2 linked regions of the Homo sapiens genome follow. The protein of the gene in region 2 interacts with the protein of the main gene of each other region in a pairwise test. Each region holds a gene or a part of one and is shown on either strand. Other genes may lie near its edges.

The links. The genes of interacting proteins can lie anywhere in the genome.
Region 1: the proteins of ACAP3 (region 2) and SLC35G2 interact in a two-hybrid assay, tested with the Homo sapiens proteins (one large-scale study listed by IntAct).

The regions. Positions count from the first base shown.
Region 1 is NC_000003.12:136,825,487-136,829,136, forward strand, and holds part of SLC35G2 (solute carrier family 35 member G2), read left to right. Parts: intron 1-3,650.
Region 2 is NC_000001.11:1,291,863-1,295,032, forward strand, and holds the end of ACAP3 (arf-GAP with coiled-coil, ANK repeat and PH domain-containing protein 3), read right to left. Parts: intron 2,955-3,170; coding exon 2,856-2,954; intron 2,767-2,855; coding exon 2,540-2,766; intron 2,338-2,539; coding exon 2,228-2,337; intron 2,072-2,227; coding exon 1,961-2,071; intron 1,847-1,960; coding exon 1,702-1,846; 3' UTR 529-1,701; downstream 1-528. UniProt on the Homo sapiens protein: GTPase-activating protein for the ADP ribosylation factor family.

The DNA.
Region 1 (3,650 bases), on a different chromosome or scaffold from region 2:
CCCCCTCAGCCTCCCAAAGTGCTGGGATTACAGGCATGAGCCACCTTGCCCAGCCATATATGGCTTTTATTATGCTGGGATATGTTCCTTCTGTGCCCAGTTTTTTGAGGATTTTTATCATGAAGGGATGTTGAATTTTATCAAGTGCTTTCTCAGCATTAATTGAAATGATTATATGATTTTTGTTCTTTATTCTGTTGATATAATTTATCACATTGATTGATTCACACATGTTGAACCATCCTTGCATCCCTGGGATAAATCCCACTTGGTCATGATGAATGACTGTTTTAATGTATTGTTGAATTTGCTTTACTAGTATTTTGTTGAGGATTTTTGCATCAGTATTCATTAGAGATATTGGCCTGTAGTTTTCTTTCTTTGATGCGTCTTTGTTAGTTTTGGTATCAGAGTAATACTGGCCTCATAGAGTGAGTTCGGAAGTATTCTCTCCTCTATTTTTGGGAACAGTTTGAATAGGATTAGAATGCTTCCTTAAATGTTTGGTAGAATTCAGCCATCAGGTCCTGGGCTTTTCTTTTCTTTATTTTATTTTATTTTATTTTTTAAGACACAGTCTCACACTGTCGCCCAGCCTGGAGTACAGTGGCGCGATCTTGGCTCACTGCAAGCTCCACCTTCTGAGTTCACGCCATTCTCCTTCCTCAGCCTCCCAAGTAGCTGGGACTACAGGTGCCCGCCACAATGCCCGGCTAATTTTTTGCATTTTTAGTAGAGACAGGGGTTTCACTGTGTTAGTCAGGATGGTCTTGATCTCCTGACCTCGTGATCCGCCTGTCTCGGCCTCCCAAAGTGCTGGGATTACAGGCATGAGCCACCACGAGGTCCTGGGCTTTTCTTTATGGGGAGGAAAAGAACTTTAGAATTCAGTAAAGTTGCAGGATACAAAATCAACATACAAAAATCAGTAGTATTTTATTATGACTTTGATCTTGTTACTTGTTATTGGTCTGTCTAGGTTTCAAATTTCTTCATGGATCAATCTTGGTGTTTTATATGTGTCTAGGAATTTATCCATTTCCTTTGGATTTTCCAATTTATTGGCATATAGTTGCTCATAGTAGCCGCAAATGATCCTTTGAATTTCTGTGGTATCAGTTGTAATGTCTCCTTTTTCATCTCTAATTTTATTTTATTATTTATTTATTTTTTTGAGATGTGGTCTGTCACCTAGGCTGGAGTGCAGTGGTGCAGTCGTGATGCACTGCAACCTCTGTCTCCCCTGGCTCAAGCAATCCTCCCACCTCAGCCTCCCAGGTAGCTGGGACCACAGGCATGCACCACCACACCTGGCTAATTTTTTATATTTTTGGTAGAGATGAGGTTTCACCATGTTGCCCAGGCTGGTCTCAAACTCCTGAGCTCAAGTGCCTGCCTCACCCTCCCAAAGTGCTAGGATTATAGGCATGAGCTACCTTGTCCAGCTGCCTCTGATTTTATTTATTTGGATCTTCTCTCTTTTTTCTTTTTTTTTTTTTTAGTATTTATTGATCATTCTTGGGTGTTTCTCGGAGAGGGGGATTTGGCAGGGTCATAGGACAATAGTGGAGGGAAGGTCCTCTCTTTTTCTTAGTCTGACTAAAGGTTTGTCAACTTTGTGTATCTTTTAAAAAAACCCAACTTTTTGTTTGAGTGACCTTATGTATTTTCATTTCAATTTCATTTATTTCTGCTCTAATCTTTATTATTTATTTTCTTCTACTAAGTTTTTTTTTTTTCCTTTTAAACAGAGTCTTGCTCTGTCATGCAGGCCGGAGCACAGGGACATGATTATAGTTCACTACAGCCTCAACCTCCTGGTGCCCAAGTGATCTTTCTACCTCAGACTCCTGAGTAGCTGGGACTACAGGTGTGCACCACCACGCCTGGCTAAGTTTTGTATTTTTTATAGCGATGAGGTTTTGCCATGTTGCCAAGGCTGGTCTCAAATTACTGGGCTCAAGCAATCTGCCGGCCTCAGCCTCTCAAATTGCTGGCCTCTTCTACTAATTTTGGGTTTGGTTTGCTCTTGCTTTTCTAATTCTTTAAGATGTGTTATTAGGTTACGTATTTGAAGTTTTTCCTCTTTTTTTGATGTAGGCATTTATAGCCGTAAGTTTCTGTCTTAGTACTGCTTTCACTGTATCTCATAGCTTTTGGTGTGTTGTGTTTCCATTATCATTTGTTTCATGAAATTTCTCAATTTCCTTAATTTCTTCATTGACCTATTGGTCATTCAGGAGCATATTGCTTAATTTCCATGTGTTTGTATAGTTTCCAAAATTCTTCTTGTTATTGATTTCTAGTTTACTTGTGGTCAGAGAAGATACTTGGTATCATTTCAGGGTTTTTGTTTTTTTTTTTTTGAGACAGGGTCTTGCTCTGTCTGAAGTGCAGTGGCATGATCTCGGCTCACTGCAACTTCCACCTCCTGGGTTCAAGCGATTTTCCTGCCTCAGCCTCCCAAGTAGCTGGGACTACAGGTGCACGCCACCATGCCCAGCTAATTTTTGCATTTTCAGTAGAGATGGGGTTTCGCCATGTTTGCCAGGCTGATCTCAAACTCCTGACCTCAGGTGATCTGCCCACCTCAGCCTCCCAAAGGGTTGGGATTACAGGCGTGAGCCACCGCACCCAACCTTTTTAATGTTTTAAGACTTGTTTTGTGACTTAACATGTGTTCTATCCTTGAGAATCATCCATGTGATGAGAAGAATATGTATTCTGCAGCAGTTGGATGAAATGTTCTGTAAATATCTATTAGGTCCATTTGTTCTATATTGCAGATTAACTCCAATGTTTCTTTGTTGATTTTCTGTCTGCACGATCTGTCCAATGCTGAAAGTGGGGTGTTGAAGTCTCCAGCTATTATTGTATTGAGGTCTCTCTCTTTCCCTGTAATGTTTAATTTATATATCTGGGTGCACCAGCACTGGGTACATATTTATTTATAGTTGTTATAGCCTCTTGAAGAATTGACCCTTTTATTATTATATAATGACCTTTTTTGTCTCTTCTTACAGTTTTTGTCTTGAAATCTATTTTGTCTGATATTAGTATAACTACTTTTGTCCTTGTTTGGTTTTCATTGGCGTGGAATATCTTTGTCCATCCCTTTATTATTTTTGGTCTATGTGTCTCTTTATAGGTGAAGTGTGTTTCTTGTAGGAAACAGATTCACTGGGTCTTGCTTTTTAATCCATTCAGCCAGTCTGTGTCTTTGGATTGGAGAATTTAGTCTGTTTACATTCAATGTTATCAATAAGTAAGGACTTCTGCCATTTTGTTACTTGTTTTCTGGTTGTTTTGTGGTCTTCTCTTCCTTTTTACCTTCCTTCTTGTCTTTTGGTAAAGATGATTTTCTCTTGTGGCATATTTAATTTCTTGCTTTGTGTGTGTGTGTATCTGTTGTATGTTTTTTGACTTGAGGTTACCATGAGGCTTGCAAATACTGTCTTATAACCCACTATTTTAAACTGATGACAACAAAGATTGCATAAACATGCAAAAAAGAAAACTAATAAAAACTCTACACTTTAACTTTATCTCTCTGCTTTTTAACTTTTTGTTGTTTCTCTTTACATCTATTGTACTGTCTACGTCTTGAAAATTTATTTTTGATTGGCTTATCATTTAGTCTTTCTACATAA
Region 2 (3,170 bases):
CGGTGATGTACCCATGCTCCGTGTGTCTGTGTCTGCATGTCCACACGTCTGATGCACCTGTGTACGTGTGTCAAGCCTAGCCACCTCAGCTGCAGGGAGGCAGAAGGCAAGGCAGGCCCCACGGACACACTTGGGCTGCTCTGAAATAAAGCTGTTGACTCCACCTGGCGGCCAGTGTGTGCCTGTGTGCCCCTCCAGCCGCCCCGCGCCCGGTGAGCTGAAACCCTGACTGCACCTGGCGGGACGAGCCCCAGCCTAGCCTCGCCGGTTCGCGTCCACCCCTCTTCCCACCAGGAAACTCAGTCTAGGACAGAGAAGGGTAGAAGGGCGAGACAATGGGGACCAGGGGCATCAGGACCCAGATTTTGTCAAACGAGCCCCAGGTCCCCATCAGGCCCCTTGCGGCCTGTTGGAGTCTGACTTGAGTGAGTGCTACCCGGCTCAGGAATGCCCCTCGGGGAGGGCAAGGGACACAGACACTCCCCGGAGACAGAGCAGAGCAAGGCACGGGAGCCCAGGAGCAGGCAGTGGGCGCAAGTGCTTTATTCAAAGCGAGGGGTGGGGGGTGAGACCCGCCAGCAGGGGCCTGGGGCAAGAGGCGGGGCCAAGCTCACACAGGGAGAGGGGCAAGAATCAATTCTGTTCTTCAGGGTCACAGGCAGCAGGCAAGAGAGTTGGGGGGCCGGGTCCAGCGCCCACTGTGCCCTCAGGGAGCCTCCCCAGGGCAGCATTGCATAGTGACCAGCCGACTGGCCTTAGCCTGACCTGCGCTGAGTGGGGGAGGCCCTGCCTCCCTGCCGGGCACCTTTGGGGAAGGGGTGCGTGAAGGCATTGGCAGGCCCTGCAATATGAGCCGAAAGACCCCTGGACCCAAGGGGGAGGCTGGTCAGGGGCAGGGCTGGGGCTCAGGCGTCCTCAAGAGTCCACAGAGAAAAGACGCAAGACAAAGTCAGACGAGGCCTATAGCAAACCCACTCGGTCCGCTACAAAGAACATGAGATGAGGGCTGCAAAGTGGCAAAGTGGCTTTATGCGCAGGCTCTGGGCCGAGTACCAGGAGAAGGTGCCTCCGGAGGAGGCCGGGATGCGGCTGGGGCTGTCTGGCACGGGGACCTTCGTGGCCAGCCACGTGGCCTTGGGACGCCCGCGTCCAGCCAGGGCTGAGGACCCAGGCCAGAGCCCCTCCCGCCCAGCACCCGCGACGCCAGCCTGGATGCTGGGGTCACTAAGTGAGGTACTCGTTGGTTCCCTGGATGGGCCACCCTTTCTGCCCTGGGAGGAGGCTCTGGGGTGTGCAGGAGGGAGCCAGCTAACAGGTCAGTGTTCTGGGCAGAAGTGGGGCACGAAGTAACACAGGCCCTGAGGACACAGGGACACAGGTGACACGGGCCTTAAAAGTGGCTTGTGACATGAGCAACCCAGGCCCCTGAAAAGGGGTGACCTGAAGACAGAGGTTCCCCAGGTGGGGTGAGGGACACCCGACGATGCAGCACCCCCCCAGGGAAACGTGAGGCTTCAAGAGACTCAGTGTGGGGCCCTCGCTCTCCTCCTGGGCGAGCAGGGCCGCGGCGCCCCAGCACTGGGGCTGCCAGGTATCGACCCGCGGGTCACACGCAGGGCCGCGGCCGGGTGGGCGCCAGGGACTTCGGGGCATGCGGGGCGTCGGGCCGGGCGGGGTGGCAGCTGCCCGGCCTGCCCGGCCCTAGCTCTCTTCCAGGTGGAGGCTGATGAACTCCTGGATACACCTGCGGAACTGGAGCTCCGTGGGGCTGCCCGCCAGGGCGCCCGGGGGACCAGGGGCAGCCTCGGCCTCGCGCATTTCCTCCGCCATGCGCGCCAGACGGAGCCTACGGGGAGGCACAGCGTGAGACGCCCCTGCCCTGGAGGCCCCGCCCCTGCCCTGGAGGCCCCGCCCCTGCCCTGGAGGCCCCGCCCAGCCCCGAGGGCCCGGCCGCGCTCACAGTGTCACGATGTCAGCGTTGGCCGCCTGCACTGCGATGGCCAACGGGTCCCGCTGCTCTTGGTCCAGGGCGTGCTGGTCCGCGCCCCGCTTCAGGAACAGGCAAACCTGGCTGAGGGGCGAGGTCGGAGGGGCGTGTCGGGGCGGGGCGGGGCGGGGCGAGTGTGGTCGCGGGGGCGTGGCCGGATAGGGCATGGCGGACAGGGCGTAGCCGGGCCGGGGTAGGCGTGGTCGGGGCACAGGGCGGGGCGTGGGTTGCGCGTCTCACCCGGTGCGGCCCAGCAGCGTGGCGTGGTGCAGGGGCGCCCGGCCCCGGCTGTCTCTTTGGTTCACGTCCGCTCCGTTTTGCAGCAGGAACTCACAGACGATCAAGGAGCCCTGGGGAGCCGGGGCAACTCAGACGGAGCCACGGCACCGGCCCCTCTCCGCGCCTCTGCACCCTGACCCCGGCCTTGGGCGCCCCCAGCCGGGACCGAACGTGGTCCCCACCGCGGACAGGCGACCCTTGTGTGGGCGCCACAGAAGATGCAAACGCGACTGTGCACCTGTGTCCTGCGCGCAGCCCCCGTGGCTCGCTCACCCCTAGCACGGCCTGCACCAGCGGCGTCTTGCCCTCATCCTCCGCGTCCGCCCAGTTGACCTCGGCCCCGTGGGCCAGCGCCGCCGCCAGCGCAGGAAGGTCGCGGGCACGCGCTGCGCGGTGCGCCAAGAGCCCCGGGTGCAGCTCGCGCACGTCCGCCAGGCCCCAGGCCTCGGCCTCAGTGTCCCCGTCTGCCTCACCGCTGGACTCCTCCGACTCTGCACCCTCTGTGGGGAGGGGGCGGTCAGGGAAAGCAACCCCCGGGGCTGCCCAGGGGCTGGGCAGGGGCCTCGGGCGAGGGCAAGACGCCACCCACCCTCCTCAGTGACGCTGTCCACCACAGAGCCCGAGCCGAAAGCCAGGACGTCCGAGCTGCCATCCGAGCTGCCCCCAAGGCCACTGTCGCTACTCAGACCTGCAGGTCCGCAGGGAAGGGGGTCCTGAGGGTGGGAGGCCCAGACTCCGTCCAGAGCCCTGGGGCAAGGCTGGAACTCCACCCACCCTCCAGGGGCCACCCCTAGGGACAGGACCAGCTCCCACCCAGGGCCGGGGGGAGCCAGCTGCAGGCTAGGAGCAAAGGAGAGAAAACCAAATAACAGCTCAAAGGTGCCAGGGGTAGCCCCCTAAAGCC